Linked DNA regions of Homo sapiens. The protein of the gene in region 4 purifies or fractionates together with the protein of the main gene of each other region. This does not show direct contact. Each region holds a gene or a part of one and is shown on either strand. Other genes may lie near its edges. The genes, in order: MTR, TIMM13, RIPK4 and AFG2B.

Evidence for each region.
Region 1: the proteins of AFG2B (region 4) and MTR purify together in Homo sapiens (affinity purification with mass spectrometry; 3 studies listed by BioGRID and IntAct, with this or other methods). This does not show direct contact.
Region 2: the proteins of AFG2B (region 4) and TIMM13 purify together in Homo sapiens (co-immunoprecipitation; 3 studies listed by BioGRID and IntAct, with this or other methods). This does not show direct contact.
Region 3: the proteins of AFG2B (region 4) and RIPK4 purify together in Homo sapiens (affinity purification with mass spectrometry; 3 studies listed by BioGRID). This does not show direct contact.

What each region holds. Positions count from the first base shown.
Region 1 is NC_000001.11:236,846,691-236,854,883, forward strand, and holds part of MTR (methionine synthase), read left to right. Parts: intron 1-3,653; coding exon 3,654-3,833; intron 3,834-5,830; coding exon 5,831-5,947; intron 5,948-6,257; coding exon 6,258-6,398; intron 6,399-8,193. UniProt on the Homo sapiens protein: Catalyzes the transfer of a methyl group from methylcob(III)alamin (MeCbl) to homocysteine, yielding enzyme-bound cob(I)alamin and methionine in the cytosol. MeCbl is an active form of cobalamin (vitamin B12) used as a cofactor for methionine biosynthesis.
Region 2 is NC_000019.10:2,424,601-2,432,637, reverse strand, and holds TIMM13 (mitochondrial import inner membrane translocase subunit Tim13), read left to right. Parts: upstream 1-5,051; 5' UTR 5,052-5,104; coding exon 5,105-5,224; intron 5,225-5,313; coding exon 5,314-5,382; intron 5,383-5,591; coding exon 5,592-5,690; 3' UTR 5,691-6,549; coding exon of another isoform or gene 6,550-6,711; 3' UTR 6,712-7,013; downstream 7,014-8,037. Other genes in the region: LMNB2 (lamin-B2), read left to right, coding at 115-222, 736-855, 980-1,090, 1,686-1,727; TMPRSS9 (transmembrane protease serine 9), read right to left, coding at 6,550-6,711, 7,145-7,281, 7,371-7,636. UniProt on the Homo sapiens protein: Mitochondrial intermembrane chaperone that participates in the import and insertion of some multi-pass transmembrane proteins into the mitochondrial inner membrane.
Region 3 is NC_000021.9:41,738,522-41,743,894, reverse strand, and holds the end of RIPK4 (receptor-interacting serine/threonine-protein kinase 4), read left to right. Parts: coding exon 1-13; intron 14-1,897; coding exon 1,898-3,057; 3' UTR 3,058-4,522; downstream 4,523-5,373.
Region 4 is NC_000015.10:45,396,651-45,405,653, forward strand, and holds the start of AFG2B (ATPase family gene 2 protein homolog B), read left to right. Parts: upstream 1-5,685; 5' UTR 5,686-5,779; coding exon 5,780-6,868; intron 6,869-8,669; coding exon 8,670-8,855; exon of another isoform or gene 8,856-8,862; intron 8,863-9,003. UniProt on the Homo sapiens protein: ATP-dependent chaperone part of the 55LCC heterohexameric ATPase complex which is chromatin-associated and promotes replisome proteostasis to maintain replication fork progression and genome stability.

The DNA.
Region 1 (8,193 bases), on a different chromosome or scaffold from region 4:
CCTGTGTGTTTTGTTTGTTGTTTTTATTGTAATTGGCTTATTTTTTCTTTGGTAAATTTTTTCCCTTTGGTATTGATTTTTAGATTTTTTCCCTTGGAAACTTCCTTTTCTTCAGTGTTTCCCTTCCTACTTGTCAGTGTCTCTCTTGAAAGGCACAAACATCCGTTTCCATCACTTCTGTTTTTTTTGTTTTTGTTTTTGTTTTTGTTTTTTTGAGATCAAGTCTCACTCTGTCGTGCAGGCTGAAGTGCGGTGGCGTGATCTCAGCTCACTGCAACCTCCGCTTCCCGGGTTCAAGCAATTCTCCTGACTCAGCCTCCCAAGTAGCTGGGACTACAGGCCTTTGCCACCACAACTGGCTAATTTTTGTATTTTTAGTAGAGATGGGTTTTCACCATGTTGGCCAGGCTGTTCTCGAACTCCTGACCTCAGGTGATCCACCTGCCTCAGCCTCCCAAAGTGCTGGGATTACAGATGTGAGCCATTGTACTGGGCCGGGCCACTTCTTTTTTTAATTACAGCCCCAGGATGGGCCTCTGCTTCCTCCAGGGTTCTCTCGCCCATCTTCAACTACTTCAGTTCGATTTTAAAACTTTAACTCACCTCTGAAGTTAGCCCTGTTCGATCTCTGCTCCTTGTCAGACTACATTAAAGAATCTAGATGTCTTCTACACATTGTCCTTCTCTTCCTCACAGTGTCTGCCTTGATGACCAAATCAAAAATTGTTTTATTGCATTACTGCCTGAGTGTGTGATATTTTAGCAGAATCTGAGCCATGAGCTTCTTAAGTAAAGCCTTCTACTCACTGGTCACAGTCTAGCTTCTCTATGGCTTAAGAGTAAACCTGTTTGATAAAGCTATAAATGGCATTTATTCCTTCCTTCTTGCTGCTTAGAATCTCACTGAGTTTTTCTTCTACTCCAACTGAAGAAGGTGCCACATCTCACCTGTTGGTGGTTCTCACCTGGCTTTATATTAGCATCACTAAGGGGCTTTTACAAAACACTTGCTGAGACCCCATCTCCAGATTCTGATTTAACTGGTTCAGGGTGAGGTGTTACTATTATAAAAAACAAGCAAACAGAAATCCCTCCAGGGTATTGTAATGTGCAACCAGAGTTGAAAGCCCTTCCTGATGGAGTAAAGCTGCCATTCCGTTGTTTTACTGAACTTCTATTCTGGATCTCTGAAATCCACCAGCACGATTGAGGCTTTATTAGTGTGTCTGTCCCACAGCCCTGGTGAGGAGTAAGACAGAAGCTTGGTGAACCTTACGTGATATGAGATATGACCTGCTCCTGACAAAGGCCTGTACACCAATGCCGTGTTCACTCTGAGAGTCATTGTTTAATCAAGTGACAGAGGTTGAGTATCTGTTAATGTGGCACAGATACTGTGCTAGACGCCATGAGAACAATTTGACAAGGGCTTCATCCTTATGGAGGTTAGAGTTGATGACTCTGTTTTGGTTCTAGAAATGAATTCCTGTCCTGTGAGGATGCACCTGCTTGTCCCACAAGCAGGGCTGTCTTTGGTATACAGCTGGGCCCTACACCCTACTCTCCTGTGGGTAACATACTGTTCACTTCAACCTGCCCTGCTTGGCCAGATAATATTCATGGCTCAGATGAGGAATGACCAGGACCTTGACTTCTTCATCTACCAACCAGACTAGGTTACTCAGTAATACTAGTAGCATTGGTCGCCCCTGTGCCTTCTCTCTTAGTGAGCTTAGATGAGCCATGAACCTAGAGCCTAGAACTCTATTGGGCTGTCTGGTGAAGGGTAGACTTTAAAAGTTCAAGCCTAAAGGCAGCTGCAAATGGGCTGTTTCTGACCAGTTTTTTCTGACATACATCTCAGTCTCAACCTTAACCTTTTCACTCTAACTGAAGGCAGAGGAAGTAAGCATTGAGAAAATTCCATTAAGGAAGACGAAAGCTCGCCACCTTCCCTAAAGCCTGGGTGCAGTGAGGCCACAGAGACCACTTCCTGTCTCCCTTTCCCTGGGCCATTTTGTCTGCTAAGTCCTGGAGGCACTTCCCTCCCAAGTAGAGGTGAAGTCTCACCCCACCAGCTGCAGAGAGCGATTAAAGAGACCAAAGAAAACAGTTGAAAAAGAATACCAAAGTAGTAAGTGATCAAAAGGCTAGATCTAAGAGAGAGTTCTTTTCATAATTCCCCTACTCCTCATTTCTGTTGTCTAGGGCCTCACTAGATGCACTTGACCTATGTCCGTGTCCCTACCCCCTCATCTCCACAGAAGTCTGCAATATAGATTGCAGTAGGGTTGGCCATTTTTCAAGAACATTTTTCGCGTTCATTGAGAATTGACCTTCAGAATTGTGACTTATTTTTTCTTATCTCTGGAGTGATAGCAAGTAATCATTTTTTAAGAGTAGATTTGATTTTTCATACAACCAGAAATAATTCAGGATGTAATTTGGTGAATACCCTGTGTTGAGGTTGTAAATTTGATCTGAAGACAGTTTCCATGACAAAGTTCAGAAATACTTTGAGTAAAAGCAGCATTCATACATAATGTTGAGCACCTACTTTGACAGGCACTGCTCAGGGCACTGGGGATAAAGCAAGACTGGCATTCTATCTAGGGGAGAGGAGTTTACCAATTAACAAGTAATAAAACAACGAAAAATACTAAAGATGTTGCCAAAATAATACAATTTCTGGAAAGAAATACTCCGAAGAAGAATGGAGGAGGTGGGGAAGGGTGGAAGTGGCTGGTTTAGAGAGGGTGATTTAAGGTAGGCTCTGAAAAGGGGGCACTTGGGCAGAAGCCTTAGTTCTGTGAAGCACAAAGCCATGTCATGGTATGTTCTGGTAGTGGCAGCAATAAATGAAAGTTGCTGAGGGAGGAACAAGCTTGACGGGTTTCAAAAACACCAAAGGAGCAATGTAGGAGGTGCGGAGTAGAGGAGAGGGCAAATGGTAGGAGATGAGATTGGAGATGGAGGCTGAGATTCTGAGGCTTTTGGGAAGCAGCTGGGGGATGAGCCTTGCCGGAGTTAGTGTTTTGCCTTTTAGGGACATTATTTTGAAGGTAAAGACTAATTTGTATTTATGACTTAAGACACATGTTAGGCCAGTGTTAAAATGGGTGAAGGTGAGGAATAAATGCATATCCTTGAATATGCTTAGAATGTTTTTGCAAGAAGATCTGAGAAAGCAATGGCAGTGTTTCCTGGGTGATAGGTTGTGACACTGCTGTCAGGTCAAGAGAGGAAGGGGCACTTACATGTTAATCTCTTCTTTAGTAGTATTTGATTTTTTATCATATGCATGTATTTTTAGAAGCTTTTTCATAATATACCATATGTGTGTATATGTTTAAGGTTTGATTTTTTGCAGAAAGAGTATAGCTGCTGTGTTTGTGAAAACACAAAGAGATCTTTAAACCAGTCTCTCCTCTGAGATAATTTGATAAGTGATCGGAAGCTGCTTGGCATTTAGATTTCTGTGAAATCCAAGCATTGACACTTGAGTGTTTTCAGTGAGTGAAATGTGCTCTAATGTATAACACTTAATATTTTAATATTAATATTTTATTAAAATAAAATAACAGGTATTTAATATTAATATTTTAATAGATAATTTTTCTATTTCAAACTACATCTTTTGCTCTTTTCCCTAGGCAACAGAAACAGACACAAAAATCAGAGTGTGCACCCGGGCCTACCATCTGCTTGTGAAAAAACTGGGCTTTAATCCAAATGACATTATTTTTGACCCTAATATCCTAACCATTGGGACTGGAATGGAGGAACACAACTTGTATGCCATTAATTTTATCCATGCAACAAAAGTCATTAAAGTAAGTGTAGGCATGTTCTCTCCCAAGTCATGGCTCAAATTTGTCCCATGGGTCTAATGAATGGTTAGAACTAACTTATATATTTATTGGCTGATGAAATGTTAACATTCTTAGTTAGTAAATTGTTTTTCTGAAATGTAGGAGACCTTATTTTTTTTCTTTAGTAGAGTTTTAACTTGTGTAACAAACAGACTGGAGAACATAACAGAGCCTGATGAACTCGCTTGAACCCAGGAGGGTGGAGGTTGCATTGAGCTGGGATCACGCCAGTGCGCTCTAGCCTGGGCGACAGAGTGAGGCCCTGCCTTGAACAAAATGATGCAAAACAAAAAAACCACAGAACCTGATAAATAATTAATTATGAAGCATATAAGAGCCTTCACTTAGGTCCCAAAATAGAGCATAGCTAGCGCCCCCGTCTGTCTCTCCTTTTCCAGTTACACCTCATTCTCAATTTTATAAAGTAGCTATTGTCCTGAGTTTTATGACGCTACTCTGTTGCTTTTCTTCATAAATTTATTGCTTATATATGTAGATTTGATTTGCATCATCTATGGATTTTATATTTGCAAATTCATGTACTTACTGAAATTTATTTGTGACCCCAAAATCAATACTCAACGTCACTTCTGCAGTTGTTCAGACTTACCCATATGCAGAGTGGTGGAAAATTTGAGTGGCCCAACCCATATTATTCCCAAAGAGGGCAAACATGGCAGTGACCTACCTTCTTATTTCAGCTCTCATCCTGTACACAGATGTCCTTTTTGCAGTCTAATGCCATGTTTTTCACACTTTTATGCGTTTTGTTGGTGAGGTCACTTTTTAAAATGGCCCCATACTAGTGCTGTCTAGTGTTCTAAGCACAAGAAGGCTGTGATGTTCCTTAGGGAGGAAATATGTGTGTTAGATAAGCTTTGTTCAGACATGAATTATAGTGCCATTGGCTGTGAATTCAGTCTTAATGAATCAACAGTAAATATTAGATACAGCATCTTAACATACATGCACAAAACAAGGTTATGTATTGATTGGTTGACAAAAATGTCATCAGAGGCTCATAGGAACCTAGCCCTGTATTTCTCCTAGGAGCAATGCTCTGGTATTCCCTAATTCAGTGTTTGCAGTGACTTTAAAGAACATAACTACCACAAAATAGTAAGAATTGACTGAATATCTGAATGATATAGTTTGGTTTTGCCTGCTTTTGAGCCTAATAAAAATAGAATCGTAATATTTTTATGTTTTTTTCTTACTCCATACTAAAGATTTATCTGTGTGGCTGTAGCTGTTTGTTCATTTTTATTAATGTATAATATTCTATGGTATAACTATACCACAATTAACTGTTCTATTGTTGATGGACATCTAGTTTTTTTCCAGCTTTTGGACATTATGAACAATGCAGCTCTGAGTATTCTTATATATGTATCTTAGACATGCATGCCTGAACTTCTCTGTAGCATAGACCCAGAAGTGGTTGGCTCATAGTAGTAGATAATGACAAACTGTCTCCCTAGATTCTTGAGCCAATAATAGTGAAAGTTCCTGTTATTCCACAAGCCTGATGATGCTTGATACTGTCATCGGTATGGTTGGAACTTCAATTTCCTTTTGTCCTTTTATAGTCGGTCAAGTTCATAGTGAACTAGGGAGTCTGTTCATTTAGGCTATGGAAGCCTTCTAGTAATTTGTACTTTCAGTGAATAAGGAATTCCTCTTTGTCTTTCTGCGTGTGTGTGTGTGTGTGTGTACGCGCGTGTTCTCCTTAGGGAGATTGGAGTCTAGTAGGAAAAACTACTTACGAAGCAGCGCCTTTGTAATACTGTAATACGGCAAGCTTTGGTCTATGTCTAGTAACAAGAAGCTCTGAATTACTTTGAACTTCGGATGCTTTTTGTTTTTTTTTCTTTCCACTCCTATATAAAGCTTAAGAGATGTGATTGCTGTTTTTGGCAAAAAAGGGGAATCTTTTCATATTTTAAAATTTTTGCCAGGAAACATTACCTGGAGCCAGAATAAGTGGAGGTCTTTCCAACTTGTCCTTCTCCTTCCGAGGAATGGAAGCCATTCGAGAAGCAATGCATGGGGTTTTCCTTTACCATGCAATCAAGGTATGGTAGAAGAACTCTTAGCCCTGCGGAAACCAGTTTTTAGTTGGGGCAGGGGTTTTCAAAGTGTGGCATGCAGGCTAAGTCCGGCCTGCTGCCAGTTTCTGTAAATAAGATTTTATTGGGATAGAGCCACACCTATTCATTTGTATCTTGTCTGTGGCTGCTTTTATGCTGTAACTACAAAGTTGAGTAGCTGTGACAGAGGCTATGGCCTAAAATATTTCTCTCTGGCCCTTTACAGAGAAAAGTTTGCTGATCGCTGACTTAAGGTATCACTGTAAATTCTCATTTTTATTTGTATTGCCCTTAGTCTGGCATGGACATGGGGATAGTGAATGCTGGAAACCTCCCTGTGTATGATGATATCCATAAGGAACTTCTGCAGCTCTGTGAAGATCTCATCTGGAATAAAGACCCTGAGGCCACTGAGAAGCTCTTACGTTATGCCCAGGTAGAGAGACAAGTGTTCTAATAGATGGATTTTTCCTATCTTTGAATGTATTACTCACCTACAGTTAGTAGACCTTCATGGTGGAATAGAAGCAAATATCGAATCATATATTTGGATCACTGAAGATTTCTACAGAGAGTTGCAGAGATGGTGGTGTAGCTAGGGCAAGGAAGGGTAAACAGACCATGCCTAGGGTGCTTCCGTATTCTGAACTTAGGTTTCTTTAAATTTATTGTAAAATGTAAAATTAATTTTTCTTGTACCAAGTAACATATTAGTTCTAGAAAATTTACAAAATTCTGGTAAGCAAAGGAAGAAAATAAAAATCACTTGTAATCCTACCACCCAAAGTTAAACACTTGAGATTTTGTTATAACCTTTAAGTGATGGGAGTTTTTATTTCTTTTTGCAAAATGAATATGCATGCATAGGTACATATACATACATTTTTTACAAAAATAGAACTATACTCTAGATGCTTTTATGGTAATATTTTTTTCTTAGCAGTGTACTGGGAACATATTTCCATTTTACTTGATATTTTTCTACCTCATTATTTAAAATAGCTGTTCTGGATTTTCTTGTGTGGCTATGTTAGTGTTACATGGTCCCCACTGTTCCATGTTTTGGTTTGTATACCTGTTTATGTTAGGATCTGGTCCATCTGTGGCAAAGTTCTGCAGTTCAAGGCTTAGGTCTGTGCACATTTGATGTGTAAAAAATGAGTATAATTATAGCTAATTCAAACACCAGCTTGTTTCTCATTTATATGTTGGGCGCAGTCCTAGGCACATGAAGTATCTATCGTAGATGGTTCTTCTTAGAATTCAGTTTAAGGAAAGTTGAGATCTTTACCTCAAAAGAACTTGCATTTTAATCTGTTTAAGAGAATGATGGCAAAGGAAGATATTTTTCCCACAAAGCATGTTGAGAAAGTGGTAGGATGCTTTTGTGTCTCTTGCCAACTTTGTTAATGTTTTCCATGTTAGAATCTGAATTTAGCTCTGATAGAACTGCCAACTTTGCCTCTTCCACAGAAGAGTAATAAAATGCTCTGGAAGAAGGATAGGACACTATGAGATTAACCACATCCTTGTTTTATCAGCCTTACTGGTAGTAAGACTTAGATTTCTGAAATTGCTTATGGAAGCCTTAGGCTCAACAAAGCTGAAAGGAGTTCAGACACTGTGCCAACGCTCACACGACCCTCCTCTCAGTTCCTTAAAAACATTTCCAGTTTCTCATGTGGACCCAGGACAGAATGTTTCATTTGGTTGTGGCAGATACAATCAAGTTCTACTTCTCAGCACATTACTTAAGAAACATTCCATAGATTTTTAATTTTTTTCCTATTGACCACATAGAGTGCTTAGCCCTGTCGTCTTCTTTGAACATTGAGACATGGGCGTTAAACACTATTCAGTTTTGAGTCATGGTCTATCTTCTACCTAGTAGGGGGTCCTTCATTAATAACTGTCAAAGAGTTCTGTTGAAGGCCAAAGGGGCATCATAGCCTCTATTGCCATGAAGTCATACTAGACAGTTCTTAATTAACACATGAAATGCTGTGTTTTTATCTTTTCCCTGATCTATCCAGAGGAGGCAGCCCTCTCACTTAGGAAAGGGGCTCCTTATTTGTAAGACCGTTCCCATTTAAGGTTTTTTTGGCATTGTATTTTGTGCTAGGCATTCTTTTGGTCTGTACTCACTTTTAGCGTTTGTTTACTAGCTTTCATTTCTGTATGTCATGCTGAGCTGCCAAGAGGTTTTGCCCCTGGAGGCACTGTCAAAGTGA
Region 2 (8,037 bases), on a different chromosome or scaffold from region 4:
TGACCTAGCTGGTGGGGGTGACCAGGGTCAGGGTGATGGGGCCACCAGCCAGGGCGATGGGGGCGGTGTCACAGTCCTGGTGGCTGAGGGTCAGGTGTGTGCCGTGTCTTCCAGGATCAGTCTCTGGGGAACTGGAGAATCAAGAGGCAGGTCTTGGAGGGGGAGGAGATCGCCTACAAGTTCACGCCCAAGTACATCCTGCGCGCCGGCCAGATGGTCACGGTAGGTGGTGGGGCAGGAGGGCGAGGGTGGCCACGGATGGGGTGTGAGGTGGGGTCAGGGGACTGGAGGCACAGGACTTGGCGGGGGTGGGTGGGGATGATGGTGGCACCAGGCACCGTCTCAGAGCGGCTGCCGCAGTCATAGAACCTCCATGTGCTGGTGTCACCCCACTGGGCCTCCCTGGAGCCTGAGTGGTGTGCCCTGGGTCTGAGTCCAGGCTGCTGGGGCTGGCAGGCGTCCCCGTGAAGTGTTAACAGTCAGGCGCATGGGCCATGGAGCCTGGTGGGTGTCAGATCCCAGTTCAGCCCCTGCTTGCCAAGAGCCCTTGGCCTCTGTGAACCCTGGTCTCTTCTTGTGTATCCTGGGGACCATCACCCTGGATAAGCCTGCGTCGGGCTGGAAGGACTGAACGCCCAGGGCATTGAAGGGGGCTTTGTGGTAGGGGCCACTGGCTGGCCCACGTCCCTGGAACCAGAGGTGACCCTGATGGGGCCATTGTTATTGGGTCCTCAGGTGTGGGCAGCTGGTGCGGGGGTGGCCCACAGCCCCCCCTCGACGCTGGTGTGGAAGGGCCAGAGCAGCTGGGGCACGGGCGAGAGCTTCCGCACCGTCCTGGTTAACGCGGATGGCGAGGTGGGTGTGTGTGGCTTGGGGGGTGCTCGGCTGGAGTCCTGGGCAGGGTCTGGGCACCCTCGGGGCCGCCACAGCAGCTCTGGGCCCGATCCCGGGACATGCCGCCGTGTCCTGTCCCGCACAGGAAGTGGCCATGAGGACTGTGAAGAAGTCCTCGGTGATGCGTGAGAATGAGAATGGGGAGGAAGAGGAGGAGGAAGCCGAGTTTGGCGAGGAGGATCTTTTCCACCAACAGGTAGGACCCCTGTGCCCACTTGCGGCTGGGGGGCAGCCTCTGGGGCAGAGTGAGCTCGTGCACACACATACACATGCGTGCTGGCCGCATCCCCGACGGGAGCTCCATCTGGCTGCCGTGGCTCAGGGTGAAGCCAGCCTTGGCTGTTACCAGCACGGCAGAGACCTGTTCTTGCCTCCTGGGTCGTGCCCATCGTGTGAATTTGCGACATCACAGACCTCAGGGTAGCTGGCCAGGGGGTCCCCTGAGAGGTGGGTGTTGAACAGCTCCCCAAATGCTCTCTGGTCAACCGGCTTCCTCAGTCGAAGACACAGGTCCCTTCAATACTGGCTTCTGGGGAGAAGATGAGTGCAGAAACCACAGCTGCATTAAACGCGTGCGTCGCAAGTTCCTGTGACTGTTTTGGAACCCAGAACAGAATGTGTAGCTCACAGGCGGGCTCATGGGGACATGGAAGTGGAATGGAAGGCTCTAGAAATAGACACTGTTGTTGCTCAGCCCCTCCCTGGTGGGGAGGTGGGGGCAGCCATCTACCTGCCGGCTGCCTCCAGGCTGGCCCTGATCATGGCCGACCTTCCTTCCTTCCTTCCTGCAGGGGGACCCGAGGACCACCTCAAGAGGCTGCTACGTGATGTGAACCCACACTCCTCATCCACACACCTTTCTTTACCCAGAGCCACTGAAAACTATTTTTATATCATTGGCTTTCTTTAGTTCTTGATACATTTCTAGAGAATTTCTAAGCGAACTGCCAGAACGTGTGGGTGGGTCTCCCCCAGCCCTCCCTCCTGGCGGGTCTCCTCCAGCCTCACTTCGCTGCCACTTCGCCGCTGCCCCGGAGACTTTTCAATCCCACCCCACTCCTCATCTCACCATTTGGTCAAATTGGAAGCCCAGGGCCAGGACCCGGAGGTTTAGAAGATGCTTGGGCTTGGAGGGAGGAGGGCCGGCGAGGCTAGCGAGGGGACAGGAGACGGCCCTGCTGCGGACGGAGCGCGGAAACTGCGTAGGAATTCAGTGGTGGTGGGTTTTTTTAAGGCTTTCTACAAAACCAAATTCAGAATCCAGGCGTCGACCTGGTGGGGCCCGGGGCCAAGCCTGCATTCTGGCTGCCCAGCTTCGGACAGCGGGAACTCCTCAGGCAGCCACGCAGCGGGTGTGGGCCAGCATGGGGATGGCGTGGCCCCCAGGGCGGGTTTTCACTCCGCTGCCTGGGCTTCCAGATTCCCGTTCTGGCAGCGCACCGGCCGGGTTTCTCGGACCGTTGACTTTATTTGGGGGAGTTTTCCCGCAGTTCAGTTCCTGACTGTGCAAGGCCAACAGGGCAGGGGAGGGGAAGACCTGGGGAAGGAAGAATGAGGACAGTCCCGTCGTAAGACCTGTCACAACAATAAGCAGGGAGGGGAGATGTGGAGGGGACACATCTGGTTGCCTTGGAGGCAGAAGCTGTGAGTTTCAGAACAGCTGTCTGCAGGGAACGCCACCATGTTGACCCTCTGGAGGAGAGCGCTGTGGAGCCCCTCCCGTGTTCCAGCTCCGTCTGCCCTGTGCCTATATATACACATGCGTCTATCCATACTGTGCTTTTATCTGTGATTTTCTCGCTGAAACCATGTTTCTCAGACAGGCCAAGGCCACCTGACTCCTATCACGACGCACCCAAGCCCCTCAGTCCAGCTTCCCAATGCCTGGCACCCCCCTTCGGCAATAGCTCACCGTTTACACCCTCCCTCATAGATACACAGAAGTTATTTTTTTAATGGATATTTATTTTTTTACATTGGTCAGTACACAGGTCAGGAGCTCACGCCAGGGCCTTGAGGACAGGCTGACCCTCCTCCCCGGGGTGGCGTGGGGCTGGGGCACCCTCCGACGGCAGAGCCTCCTTCAGAAAGTGCAGCTCAAGTCTTAAAGACACCAAAACTGAGCCATGGGCACGCGCCGTCTCCGGGCCATGGCGTTCACTGCAGGGCGGGGGCGGCACCGCTCCCCTGTGACTGCATCCCGCCTCCCTGGGGACCTGCCTGTGGCAGGAAGGAATGGGGGGCCCCAGCCCCAGGCCGGGAAGGAGCCAGCGGCCGACAAAGCAGAAACACCCGCTGCTCCACGTAGCCCCTGCTCGCTGTCCTTGCTCTCAGAAGTCCCGGTCCCATGTAGATAGAGGGGGGCGCATCTTACCAAAGCATTTCCTCCTGGAGGCTACGCCGCTGTGCTCCCAGTCAGGCGGCTGGTAGGGAGCTTTGCCTGCCCCGGGGATACCCTCTGCCAGCCGCTGGAAGTGGGAATGCTGGCGACAGACTGTGTCCTCTTTCCCACCTTCATAGCAGGAATCACCCGGACCCGACTGGCTGGGCTTCGTGCTAGCGAGGGTTCTGGGGGTGGGTCTTGGTGATCTTGTCCTATGGGGAGTCTGCAGTGGTCTCAGCCACATCCTATGTATTTTGGCTCTGGAGGAGCAAAGCTGTATCCTGGAGTTGGTCTGTGATTTGCCGACAGCCTTGCAGGCTGGGCTCAGGGACAAAGTCCCCCCCAAAACCCGCAGGTCCTCATGTCCAGACGCTGCCCAGTCCTGTCCTGAAAACAGCACGCCCCAGGCCCACAGAACCCCCCACCCTACATTTGCCTTGGGTGGAGCTGGGGGTGGTCCTAGGACTGCGGGTGCCCTTAGCTGAAGGGGGTGGGGAGAAGCGTGGACTGGGCAGCCTGTGGGTAATTGGAGGTTCATTGAGAATTGAGTCTTTGGAAACACTAAGAAAATCAAATTTTTAAAAGTTATTTATGGCCTGGGAAACAATTTGCATTTGTCCCCAAATACGCTTAGCTGTGTGCCGCTTAGAACGATGCGAAACCATCCCTCTGTGTAAGCCCGTGCCGTGTGACTCGAAGCCTAGCGCCCTCCCTGCGAAGCATCAGACGCCACCCAGCCCTGGGGGGAGGCCCACGCCTGCTGGACCAACGCGGGTTCTGGGGTGCACAGCGCCAGGTTAACGCTGAAGCCTGCCCCGCTGAGCCCAGGAGCCGGGAGGCCTGCGGGCTGACCCAGAATCCGATCATGCACCTGTCCTCATGCCAGCGGCTTTGGCTGGGGTTGGTCTGAAGCCTGCACGCGGCAGTTCTTTGTTAAAGATCTGAGGGACTCCTCAGTCCTGGGGCGTCGCCGCCTGCAGCCTCTTCCAAGCCCTGCGTCCAGCGAGCGTCACAGCACAACCTGCAAAAACGGAGCTGGGCTGCAGCTGGGGCTGGCATGGACTTTCATTTCAGAGATTCGGTTTTTAAGAAGATGCATGCCTAATGTGTTCTTTTTTTTTTCCAATGATTTGTAATATACATTTTATGACTGGAAACTTTTTTGTACAACACTCCAATAAACATTTTGATTTTAGGTTCTGCCTCTGAGTTTATTCCTGAGGGGAAGCTCGAGCCGGGGCCTCTGCCCTAATGAAGCGGATGTCTAAGAAAGATCCCTCCACCCCCAAGGAAAAAGGTCACTGGCTAGTGTAGCTAGTGTAAACAGGACCCAGGCGATGCATGGGACCCTGCCCTTTTTTTTCTAGTGAGCCTCCGACGCTGTTGCACAAGCTGACTCTTCGTCACGTGATGCGACCGGGCTCCGCCCCGGCGGCAACACGCTGTATAGACGCGCCGGGTGCCTCGTGCGCATGCGCGGCAGGCCCTTCGGGACGAGCTGGAGGCAGAGCGTGAGTACAAAGTGATCGGCCTCGGCCGCACGTAGTAGCCCCCCTACTCCCCGGCCAAGTCAGGGCCTCCCTCTTCCCGCGGAGTCGCAACCACGGGTAGCTCGTGTAGGTAACGGCAGGTCCAGGCCTCCGCATGAGCGGAGGGCCCCCCGCGCGACCTTGAATGGCCCGGGCGCGCGCGGTCGTGTGGGAGTTGTAGTCCTCCGTCCCCGTCCGCGCGGACTCCGTTTCCCGTGGTGCCCCGGGCGGCCCGCTTCCGGCGCAGTTAGTTACGAGTCGGCGCACGCGGCCTCGGTCCGGTTGACTTTGCGGAGCCATGGAGGGCGGCTTCGGCTCCGATTTCGGGGGCTCCGGCAGCGGGAAGCTGGACCCAGGGCTCATAATGGAGCAGGTGAAAGTGCAGATCGCCGTGGCCAACGCGCAGGAGCTGCTGCAGGTGCGGGGCTGGCCGGGGACGGGCGCTGGGGGCGACAGGGCCACCCCTGGGGGCCGACGTCGCGGCTAAAGCCTCGCGTGTCTCCACAGAGGATGACGGACAAGTGTTTCCGGAAGTGTATAGGGAAACCTGGGGGCTCCCTGGACAACTCCGAGCAGGTGAGACCCGCGGAGGTTCGGGGCAAGGGTCGCGAGGGCCTAGATTCGAGGGGGGAGGTGTCTGCGCGTGCGCAGACTAACGGGGAGGTGCGACGGAGTGGTCACTGCACGTGCGTAGTCTGCAGCCCGGGCGTCCTGGAGCCGGGGTCAGGGCGGTCCCCGGGGCCGCGAAGTCCCGAGCTGAGCCGTGCGCCCCTCCGCTCCCGCAGAAGTGCATCGCCATGTGCATGGACCGCTACATGGACGCCTGGAACACCGTGTCTCGCGCCTACAACTCGCGGCTGCAGCGGGAACGAGCCAACATGTGACCGGCGAGCGCGGGCCACCCCACCCTGTTCATTTCCATAAACGTGCTTTGAGAGGCGGGGTCCGCATGTACGTACTGCCTGCCCGGGGCTTAGGAGGGTGGCACCGGTGCTGGGACACACGGGACTGTGTCCTCGCCACCCCCCGCCCTGCCCCCTGCCAGCCAGTGCAGCTTGGATCTCGGGGGTGTGGGGCCCTGTGCCTTCCTGAAGTGCTGGCAGCCCAGTGGCACCTCCTTCAGGCCTTTGGGGTATTCCCCTAGTGTGCCCAAGTCAGCCTCATATTCTGGGCGGACAGCTTGTCTGGACTTCGGAGTTGGGGGTGGTCAGACACCACAGGAGCTGTCACCTCCTGCGGATGGGCAAATAAATTGGTGGAGGACGGAGAGAAACCTCTTTATTTCCCTCCTGAGGGGTCTCTGGGAAGAGGTGACGCGTGTCCCTGGAACCCCAGCTCGGAGGGTCTCAGCCTCCCCTGGGTTGGGAGAAGTCCATCTTTCCCCTTAGTGCCACCGGGCTGCTGAGTCACGAGGAATGTGTTGCTGCTGCCACCCCTGCCCCAAAGGCTAAGGGGGACAGCCTTCCCCTTGTCAGGGCTTGCTTTGACCCTGCTTCGTTCCACCCCGGGTCCTGGTGGAGCACCAGGCAGGTGGTCCTCGCTGTGACACTGAGGTGCTGAGCCAGTGAGCTAGGGTGGAGGGGCTGTGTTTATTGGAACAAAGGGTGGTACCAAAATGCATCCCCATGACCCACAGCCCCCCCACACCCGTCCTTGGGTAGGGTACGGTGGGGTGGGGTGTTGGGTGGCCTGCTGCTCCTGTTGCTTTCACGTAGAGTCTCGGCCTGGGCAGTCACGTGGTGGTCACTCCTGGATGTGCTGTCCTATCCAGCCTCTCACAGCTGCCACCCGGGTATAGACACCTGGGAAGTGGGGCCGGCCACAGCCATAGCCCCAGCTAGTGACCCCAGTTAGCACCCACCGTCCAGAGGGCTCCCTGCAGGCCAGGGGTCCCCCAGCGTCACCCTGTTGGGGAGAGAAGAAAGGGGGTTCAGAGGCCGGTACCTCCCCTACAGCAGCCCTTGGGTCATTGGCCCCTCTAGGAGTGACCCTAGTGACTTCCCCTGGGAGCCGCATTTTCACTATCTGGAAAATGGGCTCAATGCAAAGGTGGCAGACATTTATGGACACCCGCCACGTGGTCCCGGAGTGGAACGGTGCCTCCCACTGCAGCCTCTGCCTGCTCTGCCGCCGAGGCCCGGGGATGGGATGCGGTGGGTTGCCCAATAAACGGCTGTGGAGTGGAAATTCCTCCAGAGCCAAAAAGGCTCCCTGCTTGATCCGCTGGAGAAGCCTGCACCGGAGGGTGGCTCCCGGATGGTGGGCTTCGTGGCAGCGGGAACCCGCCCTCCCCGGCGGCTGGGCGGGACCTGGTCCCCTGGGCCGGGGCGGGGCTCACCGAGCAGCTGTCCACGCCACCCTGCGGGAAGCCGGCACACAGCATGCGGCTGCTGATCTGCACTGGGTAGAAGCGGCGGCAGGTCTGCTCGCTGAGGAGGCGCACGGCCGCCTTCTGCAGCTGCCGCGCCATGGAGCCTGCGGGCGGGCGAGCGAGACGGGGCGGGTGGGGACCGCGTCCGGCCGCCCCCCGAGCCCCGCACCACCGCGGCCCCGGGCGCGCCTACCTCCTTCGCGCACCGAGCCCCAGCCGGTGATGACGCAGCGCGTGCCGTCCGGGGGTCGCGGCGCGGGCTCGGGCAGGCAGATGGGACGCACCAGGCGGCTGCGACGCACCGGCCCCGCCAGCTCCAGCAGCGCCACGTCGTAGTCGAGCGTGTAGAGATTGTAGAACGGGTGCTTGTAGATGCGCGCCACGCGCTCCAGCTGCCCCTCCGCGCCGCTCAGGAACGGCGTGCCTAGGAAGGCCGCCCACTGCTTGGGGTCCCCGTAGCTGCGGGGCGCGCGAGGACAGGCGTCGGCCCGAGCCCCCACGCCCCCGGCCCCCGCCCCTGTGGTGTCCCCCAGCGGCCGGCTGGCACCCTGGGCAGGGTTATTGGCCTCTTGGTCTCTGGCTGTCGGTCTGGGAATGGGCTCAGTCTCCCCCATCAGGCACCGAGGCGGCACCGGGAACTGCAGCCGTCACCACCTAATATGAGCGCTCTGAAAAGGGGTCTAGTGGCCGTGCGAGTCCCGCCCCCCGCCTGCCCTCCCCTTCTGACCTCCAGCCCTGCAGAGCCCAGAGCTGGGTGTCCCCTCTGGAAAACCGGACCCCTCGACTGCCAGGGCTTGGGCCCTGGGGAGGGCAGCTTTCTACTGGGTGGGCTTTGGGGGGCTGGAGCCAAGTCCCAGGGG
Region 3 (5,373 bases), on a different chromosome or scaffold from region 4:
CCTTCAACCAGCGGTGAGTGGGGACGCCTCTGTGTCCCGAGAGATGCTGGGCTTGGCGGGACAGTGGACTGGACTCAGTGAGAAGCTAAACGGAATCAAGGGGACAGTTTCTTGACCCAGCAAGAATTCTTCTTTGTGTTCTCTCTGTCTTAAGTAATTAATTTTGTGTGTTGGGCATTTGGCTCCGTCTTATGTCACTTAGCATGTGTGGGGAACAGGCCACATCACCAGTCTGTGCAGCAGTCTTGCCTGTGCCAGTGCCATGGGTGGAGGCTGACCTCAGGTCTACAGATTGGAAACCCCCTCCAGTGCAGTGAGCCTGGCGAGTAGCCGAGCCCCACTCCCTGGCGGGCCTCCTGTCTCGGGCGTGGCAGTCCCGCACCCTCTGCTCAGACGCTGCTGGGTACACACCCACGCCTTCGCATATGTGGGCTCCCCGTTCACGGTAGTCCAGGCCTAGTAATGTGTTGGTTATCCTTGGAGGTTTTACCACCAGGCCACCTTTGCAAACCACCTGATAGGGAGGAGCACTTCTCTTTTAGCTAATCTCATCTTTTTATGTTAATTTTGATGGCTTTTGTTTCTGGAAGGTGCTTTTTTTCCTATCCCTGCCCCAGGGTGCTGGACCTGGTGCTTGTTCTGGCCTCCTTTCTGCCGGCTGCAGGGGTAAGATGTGGTCCTGCCCTGTTCCTGAAGGGGCTGCAGCTCTGATGGAAAATACAGGGATTTACACTCAGGGCTACAGCCACGGGGGCTGAGGGCCAAGGCTGCAATCTCGGGGGAAGGGGAAGTTGGCTTTTCCTGGTGGATTGGAAACATCCTCTTGGAGGCAAAGACTTTTCCTGGATCTTACAGACTTCCCGGGATTTTTAGATTAGAATATTGGGGGCAAAGGAGGCTGTCTTGTTTTAAGGCAATGCTACATAGACACAGTGGGGAAGACCTGGTTCGACGGCAGATAAGCAGTGGGTGATGGGCTTGAGGAGGAGAGTCAGGGCAAAGTCTAAGACTGAGCAGAAAGAAATACCACCATCTCCCATGGATAAGTACGTTCTAGAACATTCTCTTTGGGTCTAATACTCTGAAATGACATCTTGTCTTCATGCTCGAGAGAGAATTACTTCACTGGCTCCACTTGGAGTGCCAGTGTTCAGACACCAAGCCTGACTGGGAGGGTTCCGTTTTCTTAACACCTTCCCACCGCCGACTTCCAAGTCCCCACGCGTTTCACATGAGGGCGGAGGAGAGTCTCGTTGCAGGGTTTCAGCATTCCAGGCACTACGGTAGGATTTTTGTGGTAAATACAACTTTTCATCCTGAGTGCTGGACTAACGTCCTCCTGAAACGAGAAGCTCGGTCCCTTCAGGATTATCATAGAAAACTTCCGACTTAACCTCCCCAGGTCAGGAGGTGCCACTTCGAGGTGGGGCAAGAGCTGGAGCAGCCCCTTCCAGCTCTAGTCACCATCTCTGCAGGCTGCTAGGCCTGGGGCGTCCGTGGGTGGCAGGTGCCAAGGCTTCCAGGCGAATGGGAGCTCTGGCCTGGTCTTTTTAGTCTGTGCCCTTTTTCCTTCTTTCTTTAATGAAGGGATGTTTGCAGTCACTGCCATCTCTAAGCACCAAGGGGGCTCACCACCCCGCAGGACAGGGAGAGCGGGTTTTATTTTGCAAACCGACTAACGAGCACCTGGGAGACATTCGCCAGCCTGCCCCGGGGCTCCCGCTAGGACTGACCTTAATCACGAGGCACAGACAACGCTCAAACACAGTCGGGTGACCAGCGAGCAGCCTGGAGGCCATGGCACTCCTCCACCTGAGCGCCACAGCCAGGCTCCCAGAGACGCCACGTCCCTGGATGTGCAGCCACGCTCTGACCTTTGCCTCTCCTCTCCCTGCAGATCTGGGCACCACAGACGTCCAGAAGAAGAAGCTTGTGGATGCCATCGTGTCCGGGGACACCAGCAAACTGATGAAGATCCTGCAGCCGCAGGACGTGGACCTGGCACTGGACAGCGGTGCCAGCCTGCTGCACCTGGCGGTGGAGGCCGGGCAAGAGGAGTGCGCCAAGTGGCTGCTGCTCAACAATGCCAACCCCAACCTGAGCAACCGTAGGGGCTCCACCCCGTTGCACATGGCCGTGGAGAGGAGGGTGCGGGGTGTCGTGGAGCTCCTGCTGGCGCGGAAGATCAGTGTCAACGCCAAGGATGAGGACCAGTGGACAGCCCTCCACTTTGCAGCCCAGAACGGGGACGAGTCTAGCACACGGCTGCTGTTGGAGAAGAACGCCTCGGTCAACGAGGTGGACTTTGAGGGCCGGACGCCCATGCACGTGGCCTGCCAGCACGGGCAGGAGAATATCGTGCGCATCCTGCTGCGCCGAGGCGTGGACGTGAGCCTGCAGGGCAAGGATGCCTGGCTGCCACTGCACTACGCTGCCTGGCAGGGCCACCTGCCCATCGTCAAGCTGCTGGCCAAGCAGCCGGGGGTGAGTGTGAACGCCCAGACGCTGGATGGGAGGACGCCATTGCACCTGGCCGCACAGCGCGGGCACTACCGCGTGGCCCGCATCCTCATCGACCTGTGCTCCGACGTCAACGTCTGCAGCCTGCTGGCACAGACACCCCTGCACGTGGCCGCGGAGACGGGGCACACGAGCACTGCCAGGCTGCTCCTGCATCGGGGCGCTGGCAAGGAGGCCATGACCTCAGACGGCTACACCGCTCTGCACCTGGCTGCCCGCAACGGACACCTGGCCACTGTCAAGCTGCTTGTCGAGGAGAAGGCCGATGTGCTGGCCCGGGGACCCCTGAACCAGACGGCGCTGCACCTGGCTGCCGCCCACGGGCACTCGGAGGTGGTGGAGGAGTTGGTCAGCGCCGATGTCATTGACCTGTTCGACGAGCAGGGGCTCAGCGCGCTGCACCTGGCCGCCCAGGGCCGGCACGCACAGACGGTGGAGACTCTGCTCAGGCATGGGGCCCACATCAACCTGCAGAGCCTCAAGTTCCAGGGCGGCCATGGCCCCGCCGCCACGCTCCTGCGGCGAAGCAAGACCTAGCTGGCTGCCTGCGGAGACCGGGGGTCCACGTGGGGCTCTTGTCCTGTCCTGTGTTCCTCGTGGGGATGGAACGATCCTGCGTGGGGCCCTGTTGTGGCTTACCTAAATGTTAACCAAGCAGAGGTGACATGGTGCCATCAGGAGGCGGCTGCTGCTGACCGGAGTGTCCCCTCCAGGTGAAGCTGGCTCAGGTGCACATGCCCGCTCCATCATCGATCTAGGCACCTGCTGTCTGAAGGGACCGTGGGTCAGAATCATTTCGTTGTGCTCCTAATGGGTCGCTGAGGCTGGTCTCTCAGTGATGAAGCCCCAGGCGTGGAAGCATCCACTCTCTCCTGAGGCGAGCCACCTTGGGTTGCTGGAGCTCACCAGTCTTGAGGGAGGTGCAGGGGAAACTGTGTTTTTTATCTTCATACATGACGGTGGGCAGAGAGGCCTGTCTTAAAGTTTCCATGGAATTGTTTTATAAAATATCTTAAGAGATGAATACCTTATCAGCTGTTGCTTGAAACCTGTTAAAAATGTTCATAACATTGGATAGTCTAGTCTCTAAATGATGACTAAGTAGTGGGGTTGGCTTTGAAAACAATGTTTTATGCAACAAGGAACGAATGGTAGCAGCCAGCTTTGCGGGGCGTATGTGTGGCCAGCTCTTAACCATTCCAGTCTATTACTTGGGTGAGTCCTTGTGGACAACCACACACACGTGCCCACATGGTACTAGCTGCCGTTCGTTTCTCGTTGCCTAAGATGTTTTGGCAACTCTAGAGCCACAGGCCTAAGTCATTAAAAAATTCTCCCTTTGTAACCTCAGTGCTGGGGACTGAGGCGAGCCCCCTCAGGTCGCTGGAGTGCACCAGTCTTGGGGAAGAGGTGCAGGAGAAGCTGTGTTTTTTATCTCCACACGCAGTATGAAGATAAAATTACATAGTATTACCTAGACATAGACAGTATTACCTAGGTAGATGCACTGCTCACCTGCGCCCTTCCCAGCTCTCATTTTTGTTAGGTGATTTGGGATAGGGATAGTGTTTTGGGGTATGGGGGGAGTGTTTCTGACCTGCTTTGCAGACGTGCCTCCGCACCTCAGCAGTTTGGGGTGTGGCCCCAGGGCGGTTCTTGGATGTAAAAGATGTGGCCATCTAGCCTCGTAACTTCACTGTCACCTGTGTCCCATAGGGTGCCTTCTGAATACTGTTATTAGAATAAGTTTGTTGCAGAACGTGACCCTGCGTGCAAACATGTACCGTGGCCTGGTATATGATAGAGATTGATATTAATGTACCATGTATGTTAATGTGAATCTGTGGGCAGGATACTTTTCCATGGCAGGAAATATCCAAGCTGTTGAAACTGGCTATGTTTTAATATGCCTCATTGTGCCTTTACTGTTGTGTGGACTGCGTGAGGGACAAGAAGTTCCATTTGATGTCAATAAAGCAAAGTACTTGCCTACTTTTTTGAAGCTGGTTGAGACTGCTTTTTCTTATCAACGAGCTCGAGTAATCTGGTTTCTGAAAACCAAAGGCTTGAGGCAGTGACGGAAGCTTGCAGATGGCCTTCTGGAAGGGCCCCTGTGTCCTCAATTAACCCAGGCCGCGGGACCCCGAGAAAGCAGAGGGTGGAGCCGGGCGTCGTCCTCTGCCTGGGTCCCTCCGCACACGGGTGATCAGGTGGGGGAGAGAAGTGTGTCTTGATGGAAGCTCCCAACACTGAAGTTTTTATTGAAATGTTATAGTTCTTACGTTCTGTATTTTGAAATAATTTCAGATTACAGAAAAGTGACAGGAGTAGTACATAGAACTCTGGTAACCCTTCAGCTAGATTCCCTGTTTGCTTATATTTGATTGTATTTGCCTTTCTCATCCACCTACCTACCTGTTCGAGAGTAGGTTGCAGACAGTGTGCCCTGTTACTCCTAAATACTTGCCTGTACATTTCCTAAAAACAAGAGTTTCTCCTGCATCACCCACAATTTACCCATCACATTCAGGAAATTAACATTGGTAGGATATTACCATCAAATCTGCAAATTCTCTTCAAATTTTGCTGATTGTCTCAAAACTGTCCTTTATAGAAGAAGAAAGTTGAAAAACACGCAAGCAGCACCTCTTTTTTTTTTCACTCTCTGGCCTGGGACCCCATGGTGTTCAATAGCCATGTGGCTTCCGTTTTTATCAATCGTCAGTTCCTCAGTCTTCTCTTTTCTGACTTTGAATTAACTTATGACATGGAGCTCCTTCATGGGTTCATTCAGACCTTTTGGGAAGTATGGCCAGTTATTTGGTGGAATGTCCTCAGTTTAGGTTTATCTAA
Region 4 (9,003 bases):
ATGAGGTCAGGAGATCGAGACCATCCTGGCCAACATGGAGAAACCCCGTTCCTACTAAAAATACAAAAATTAGCCGGGCGTGGCAGCATTGTGCCTGTAATCCCAGCTACTCGGGAGGCTGAGGCAGGAGAATCACTTGAACCCAGGAGGCAGAGGTTGTAGTGAGCTGAGATCACGCCACTGCACTCCAGCCTGGGCAACAGGGTGAGACTCCGTCTCAAAAAAAAAAAAAAAAAAAAAAAGCCATAAGTATGGTAAAGATAATACTGACCTTCTGTTAATTTCTTAAACACAAAAAGCATATTCCAATCTCAGGGCATTGGCACAGGCTTTTCCCTCTTCCCTTTCCTCTTCCAATTCTTCTGCTTGGTTTCTACTTATCCTTCACGTCTCAGCTGGAATGTCACTTCCTCAGAGACCTTCTCTCCTTTCCTGTTGTGAAGTAAGAAATATATATATGGTCTCTGCCTCTAGTCTCTGGCCTAGAGCTCCCAACACCCTTGTAATTTCCTGAGTTACAGGGGTGCTAGGAGAATCTTTGGTTCTAATGTTTGGTCTTCACTCTCGTTCCTGACATGGAGCTCTTAAATCCCGTGGACTTTCCTGAGTGATAGGAGCAGTCTTTTGTTCTACCAAGGCAATTCTTGCCCGGCTCCTAGATGAGGGCTGGTCACCGGAAAGCCCAACCATGATCATAAACTTGGAGCTTTCAGCCCCTACCTCCATTCTCCAGAGAGGGACGGAGGCTGGAAATTGAGTTAATAATTGATCATGCCTACGTGATGAAGGCCCCATAAAAATCCCTTAACTATGGGGTTCAGAGAGCTTCCAGGTTGGCAAACACACATCCATGTGCCTGGAATGTGGTACATACCAACTCCATGGGGACAGAAGCTCCTGTACTCAGGACCCTTCCAGATCTCACCCTTTGTATCCCCTGGCTGTTCATCTGTATCCTTATTACATCCTTTATTAATAAGCCAGTAAATGTAAGTAATGTGTTTTCCTGAGTTCCATGAGCCATCCTAGTAAATTAATAGAACCTAAGAAGGGGGTCATGGGAAGCCCAATTTACAGACCGTCCCTGGTCAGAAGCACAAGTCACAATCTGGAACTTGTGATTGGCATCTGAAGGTGGGGGGCAGTCTTGAGGGACTGGGCCCTGAACCTGTGGAGTCTGATGCTATCTCCAGGTAGATAGTCTCAGCATTGAATTGAATTAGAGGACACCCAGGTGGTATCTGTGGGAGAATTTGCTTGATATGTGGGGAACTCCCCAACCAACACCTGGTGTCAGAAGTGCTGTGTTGAGTGGCTGAGTGGTGTATGAGAGTAGGAAAAACAATTTGTTTTGTTTTTCCTATCCTTAATACCTGTTTAAAGTAGCCCTTTTCCGTTTATTTCTTTCAAAGCAATTTTCATCACCTTTAATTATCAGATTTATTCACTTGTTTACTTCTTCAATGTTTGACTTCCCAGTAGACTATAAGCTTCATGAAGGCAAGGATTACAGTGTTTTTATTGTTGTTGTTTGCCACCAAATACTCAGCCTCTGGTATAGTAACTAGCAAGAAGTAGATGTTCAATAAATATTTGTTTTAATAAATATATAATTATTATGTTTGTTGAAAAGTGTGAACCAACATCATAGGGAAAAATTACCTTAACATTAACTTCTAAAAAATGATGAATCAAGCAATTTCCTGAAAATGTGCAAGAACAGACTTTCAGAATGATGTTCTATGAACTGTAGTCTGCAGGTCATTTGAAATCCAGCAAATATTTTCATCCTCCTTCTTCTGATTCTATAACTTATTCTATATCTAGAATTACTCTAAAGACTAATTCTAACCTGGATACAAGATAAAAAGTAAAGATGGAAGATTCTAAAGAACAATTTTAACAATGTCCCATTTAGGGGGATTTTCATTACATACTTTATGAACACAGGTTCGGCATATTAGCTATCCGTGGAAATAAGTCACTTACTACATCTACATGAGCATGTTGAGATGAAAGTGTTTGCAAATCATGCTTTTTCAAGGGTGGCTAAACAAATCTCTATTCATCTATTACAACTCATAGTCATTGCTAATGTTCAAATATATTAGGGTTGAACATAACACAAAAATGGAAATGCTGGAAAGATTAACATTATTTAATCTACAGATGACTCATGCTACTGGTTTAACCATTTTCTTTAGATTTTTTTCATATACAGGAATATATTTTTATATACATATATAATATGCTGAAGGGACAAAAATATTGCATGATCATTATCCTAAAGAAACAGATTCCAATTATTTCTTTTGAATTATAGACTTACAGTTAATTAAGAATTTTTATAGTTAATTAAAAATTAGACAGATTGTAACCTTGAATGTAACAAAGGACATAAAGAGAAACCATTTGTCACATGTACCTTTTCGGGAAAATCTCACAAAAGATTTTGTTTGGCAAAGCTATTTGAAACAATTTAAAGCTAGAAATGTTTCTAGGCTATAGCAAGATGAATTCCATCGGTTTGGATTTTGACCTACCACTAAATTTTGGATTTAGGAACAGTCTCATTTTTATACTTAACACAAAAATTAAATTTTAACTTAGAAACTGAGTTTTACACAGCTTGAGGCTTGTGAAAAATTATGTGAAAATAAGTCAGTTACTGCTAGGGTCTCAGTGTTTGTGTCCTCCACAAAATTCATTTGTTGAAATTTTAACCCTTGAGATGATGGTAGTAGGAGTCAGGGCCTTTTGGGAGGTGATTAGGTCACGAGAGTGGAGCCCTCATGAATGGGATTAGTGTGCTTATAAAAGAAACATGAGGGAGCTAGCTAGTCCCTTCCACCATGTGCAGGTACAATGAGCTGTCTCTAGACAGGGGGCCCTTACCAGTCATGGAATCTGCCAGTGCCTTGTCTTTGACTTCCCAGCCTCCAGAACTGTAAAAAATAAATTGCTGTCATTTATAAGCTACCTCGTTCGTAGTATTTTGTTACAGCAGCCTGAACAGACTAAGCCAGATAATATATAGAGACAACAGATGGCTTCATACACCTAGGTGTGAATCCTGGGAAAATTGAGTGGAAACCACAGTTGAGAACACCAACGTCCTAACAATCCTGTAGCCTTCAGGCTTAGTTGGTTCTGGACTCCCTCTAGTGGTTCAATTCTAGTGCTTTAATTGATGTTCTTCAATTCATAGAATTAACAAATTTCTGGTCAGATTAAAAACAACTAAGCAAAAGAGCCACACAACTCCCATTAGAATGGTTTACCACAAGGAGGCCAGGTGCAGTGGCTCATGCCTGTAATCTCAGCACTTTGGGAGGCTGAGGCAGGTGGATCACTTGAGGCCTGGAGTTCGAGACCAGCCTGGCCAACAGGGTAAAACCCTATCTCTACTAAAAATCCAAAAGTTAGCCAGGCGTGGTGGTAGGCACCTGTAATCCCAGCTACTTGGGAGCCTGAGGCAGGAGAATTGCTTGAACTTGGGAAACAGATGTTGCAGTGAGCTGAGATCCTGCCATTGCACTCAAGACTGGGTGACAGAGCAAGACTGTCTAAAAAATAAATAAAATTTTAAAAATAAAAAGAATGGTTTATCACAAGGAGATTATGTCATTGAATGGCATGATAAATATGGATGTTCAGATGGCTGAAATCATAGTGTTGCAAATGGTTAGACCTAAAGGGACAGAATGGATTTTACTGGATGATTGGGAAAGACATTTATAGTTTTGCTCAGAGTGAGTGGATAAGAGCTGAAGGCCCAGTAACAGAATTCCTTGTTGCTTTTGTTTGCAACCTATGGTAAAGACTGGATCTTTTAGAGAAAGAGTGAAGTGAAATAATATTTCCTGTGCATATGGATTCTATAAGGTCAGAGGGTTCTTGTTTGACCTTGTATAAAATCAACCTCTTAGACCAACCAAAAGCAACATGTAGTTTCCTTCTCATCATATTCCTAATAGCATAGTTTGTGCCTCTGTTTTAAACCAATTCAGAAAATTTTGAGGCCGATTTAACTTTATTGGCTCCCTGTTTTGGCTTTGGTTATTCCACTCCATTAAACCTTTACTTCTTGGCCATTTCTGCACTGTAAATATAAGTAAATCTACTAACTCTTTTACATGAGATCCCTTTACATATTTAAGACAGTTATCCTGTCCTCAGTAAGTCTTCTTTCCCTCTCCCAGATCCTTAAAGCTTCTTGGAGCTGAATAGAAGGAACTCGATGAGGTACAGGCTTCTGATAAAATAACTTGATAGGCATGTAATTCACACCTTTAGGGGTCGGTAAAAACGATGGCTTTTTTTTTATTTCAAAAAATGCAAAGCTGTTATTTAAAAGTCCCCAAACCAAAAAGAACTGAAGCCAATGGGATTAAGAGGAAAAAAGAAAACAGGAAGTAATGGGTGACTTATCCATTTCAAGACCTCCTCCTGCTATTTTCTGATTCCTAAATTGTTCCAGAATCGATTTAAGCAGACAAGTACAGCTGAGACCAGGTAAGTTACTGTCAAGTCAAGAAGTCTGTCATGTCTGCCATGAAGTTTGGACAGAATGAGATCAGGAACTGGCATGGGTCTTAAGATCCCAGATCTGACAGTACTTCCCATTGATAAGATATTACTACACAGTCTGTAATTGATTATTTGCATAGATAGAAAAAAAAAACTTCCCAGCAACTTAAGCACTCTAAAATATCAGTTTTGTCAACTCACAAATTTGGGTTGCAGTGAAAGTGGGGAAAATAGAGGTAGGAAGATGTAAGTCAAATAAAAACAAGGTATATCTTCTTGTCTTTGAGTATCTGTAGTTCTTTTTTAACGGCAATTAAGAGGGATAGAAAATGTATTCCAGCTGATAAAAAGGAATTCCCTGTGCGAAAGGGAAAGGCAGAAAGCAGCTGGAAAAAAAAAATAGCAGGCAGTTGTCTTAATAACGTAGATAGGTATCGCCTCTAATACAGGACTTAGTACTGTTGTGCCCCAATTAGACAGTAAGCATTGATCGCATGAACTTTAGTGATTAACTTGTTGCCAAAGAATATTCAAAAGAATATCAGAAATCAGAACAAATGTACTGTTGGTGTGCTACAAATCCATCAGGTAGCCTAGTTTTCCTTCTTTCCTCTCTACAAGGGATTTTAAGCGCTACCGTGTGCTTCCCTCCCACTATGCTGGTACTTTCCCATAGGAAGGGTTGTGCCTGGACCTCCCAGATTGGAACCCCGATTACCGAAGGTCCCAAGGCTGTATTCTCAGTTACGCCAAGTCACCTGAGACATTTGCACCAGAGCACCCAAAATTCTGTGCCCATGCGGATAGTTAGAGTTTCTTCACAAAATAGCAAAGTCTCTAGGTTGCTATTCCAACGGCGGTAGTACTGATGCTCCAGTTCGAAGGCCAGGAAAACAGAATGTAAAGCCGGTGACTTCCAAGATATATGTAACCACCAAAGTACATGCTTAATGACCTAGTGAAGTGAGCTTAAGCCGCCTCCCAGACACCTGTAACGAAGACCATCTCGGGAAAGCTCTGGGTTAGGCAACTCGATTTCACGAAAGCGGACACCAACGCTCTACCCAGAGGCCCGAGCGTCGTCTAACGTTTCCATTGGCCCTTTCGGCCTTCACTCAGCTGCTAGCAACGCAGTCTGCCCTAGCGCATGCGCGCAATCTGCTTCCGGCCTGCGAGCTCGGTGTTCCGCTTTTTGTGGGCCGGGTGGGTTTCCTAATCTGGTTTCGTCTGCCTGGTTCATCTGTGTGCGATGGCTCCGGACTCGGATCCCTTCCCTGAAGGGCCGCTCTTAAAGCTGCTACCCTTAGACGCTAGAGACCGGGGCACCCAGCGCTGCCGCCTGGGCCCGGCCGCCCTCCACGCCCTGGGCGCGCGCTTGGGCTCGGCAGTGAAGATCTCGCTACCCGACGGCGGCTCCTGCCTCTGCACTGCCTGGCCTCGGCGGGACGGAGCGGACGGCTTTGTGCAGCTGGACCCGCTGTGCGCGAGCCCCGGGGCGGCGGTCGGGGCGTCGAGATCCCGGAGGAGTCTCAGCCTGAATCGCCTCCTCCTAGTGCCCTGTCCGCCCCTGCGGCGCGTCGCCGTGTGGCCGGTGTTGCGAGAGCGGGCAGGCGCGCCCGGTGCCCGGAATACAGCCGCGGTGCTGGAGGCGGCACAGGAGCTGCTGAGAAACCGACCGATCTCCCTGGGCCACGTGGTGGTCGCTCCGCCAGGCGCTCCTGGCCTGGTGGCTGCCTTGCACATCGTCGGCGGGACGCCCAGTCCCGATCCCGCTGGGCTGGTCACCCCTCGTACCCGCGTCAGCCTTGGCGGGGAGCCTCCGTCGGAAGCCCAGCCGCAGCCCGAGGTGCCCCTGGGAGGTCTTTCGGAGGCGGCCGACTCGCTGCGGGAGCTCCTCCGCCTCCCGCTCCGCTACCCGCGCGCCCTGACCGCGCTGGGCTTAGCGGTGCCTCGCGGGGTGCTCCTGGCGGGGCCCCCCGGAGTGGGCAAGACCCAGCTGGTGCGGGCCGTGGCGCGCGAGGCGGGCGCGGAGCTGCTGGCAGTCAGCGCCCCGGCGCTGCAGGGTTCCCGGCCTGGGGAGACCGAGGAGAACGTGCGGCGGGTCTTCCAGCGCGCCCGGGAACTGGCCAGCCGCGGACCCAGCCTCCTCTTCCTGGACGAGATGGACGCCTTGTGTCCCCAGCGGGGCAGTCGAGCACCCGAGAGCCGCGTAGTGGCCCAGGTGTTGACGCTGCTGGACGGCGCCAGTGGGGACCGCGAGGTCGTGGTTGTGGGAGCCACTAACCGGCCGGACGCTCTAGACCCAGCGCTGCGTAGGCCCGGGAGATTTGACCGAGAGGTGAATGGGCTTGGCGGGTTTGCCCACTGTCGGTGGAACCTCGGCCGCTTCTGGCGCCATTTGGCTGCCCCGGAGGCGTTTGCCTCTTAGGTTTGAGCATCGGTGAGGTTGGAGTTGGGGCTCTTTGCAATGCAGAGAACACGTTCTCTGCCGATATATGATCTGTGAGTCAGGACCTGTATTTCCCCAGAGTCAAATTGTCAGGACCTGTGAGTCAGGATCTGAGAGTCAGGACCTGTTTCCCCAGAGTCTAATTGTTTTGGGAAGCGAGGTGTCCATTACAGATTAATTTTGTTGTGCAGGTCCTATAATCAGTAATGTTAATTCTTAAGAGAATTTTGGTCACCTACAAGCGTGTTAAACTCATTTTTTGGAATGAGAATTTAAAGAAGGATAGCCTCAAGAAGTAAGTGTGTTGAAATAAAAAGGGAGAAGGTGGGGAAGAACTAAATGGAAGCAGGCATTAACTCTTCTGGATTTATTCATTCCTTGTCATAACACCAGCATCCTATTCCACAATTGAGGAGGTACCCACAACTGCTCCCTGAGTTGTCAGGGAGGTTGAATATTCAGAGCTGTCCTATTTTAAGCTTTGGTCCTAAATTGACTTGAATTCTAAAGAACAGTTTGAAATTTAGTGACTGATATTTCTATTTTGTGATAGGATTCAAAAGAGAAATGATAATTACACACTTTTAGCTCAGTTAGTTCAGGACTTGAGTGGATTTCTTCCTTGCACTATCTAGTACCTGTGTCCTTAAGGGCAGGGACCTAGCTATCTATACCTGGCTTCTAGAACTTTGTGTGTTCTTAAAAATAACAAAAACTTGTTAAATGACATAGAATTTTCATTGTGCAACTTTCTAGCCAGTGTTACTCCTCTGGAATATTAGGATTTTCGTATATTCAGAATCTAAAGTATACGTAAAGTGCACGGTACTAGTTCCAAAGTGGTTCACTAAATTGTCGTACATGTTTGTCAGGATAAAAAACATATTATTATTTTGGCCGGGCGCGGTGGCTCACGCCTGCAATCTCAATACTTTGGGAGGCTGAGGTGGGTGGATCACCTGAGGTCAGGAGTTCGAGACCAGCCTGGCCAAGATGGTGAAACCCCGTCTCTGCTAAAAATACAAAAAATAAGCCGGGCATGGTGGCACATGCCTGTAGTTCTAGCTACTCTGGAGGCTGAGGCACCAGAATCACTTGAACCAGGAGGTGGAGGTTGCAGTGAGCTGAGATGGTGCCCGCTGCACTCCAGACTGGGCAGCAGAGTGAAACTGTGTCTCAAAAAAAAAAAAAAAAGAAAAAAAAAATATATATATGTATACACACACATATATAAAATTTTTTTGGAAGTAATTCTTTTTTAATTGATCTATTTTTATTGATACATAATTGTGCATGTTTTGGGGTACATGTGATATTTTGGTACATGCATACAATTTGTAATTATCAAATCAGGGTGCTTAGGATATCCATCACCTCAAACATTTATCATTTCTTATCTGAGTGTTGGGAATATTTCAGATTCTCTCTAGTAGCTATTTTGAAATATACGAGAAATTATTGTTAACTATAGTCACCCTACTACACTATCAAACATTACACATATTCCTTCTACCTAACTGTATGTTTGTACCCATGAGCCAACCTGTCTTCATCCCCTCACCCCCAACCCTTCCCAGTGTCTGGTTGCTATCATTCTGCTGTCTACCTCCATCCATGAGATCAACTTTAAAAATAATATATTTTAAACTATATACTTCTTCTTCTTTTTTTTGTTTTGCTTTGCATATAGGTGGTCATTGGGACTCCCACACTTAAACAAAGAAAGGAAATTCTGCAAGTGATTACCTCGAAGATGCCCATCTCCAGTCATGTTGATTTGGGCCTTCTTGCAGAAATGACAGTTGGCTATGTTGGTGCCGACCTGACAGCACTCTGTAGGGAGGCTGCCATGCATGCCCTCCTTCATAGTGAGAAGGTAAGAAGTGTTAATTTATGAACATCTATGTTAATCTATTATTGTAACAGATTAATTTGGGGGTTAAAAAAAAGCGGTGAGTACATTTTCCTTAGAACATTTGATAGCTTCCACAGCTGTTGCTTATACATTTTACATCTCAACTCTA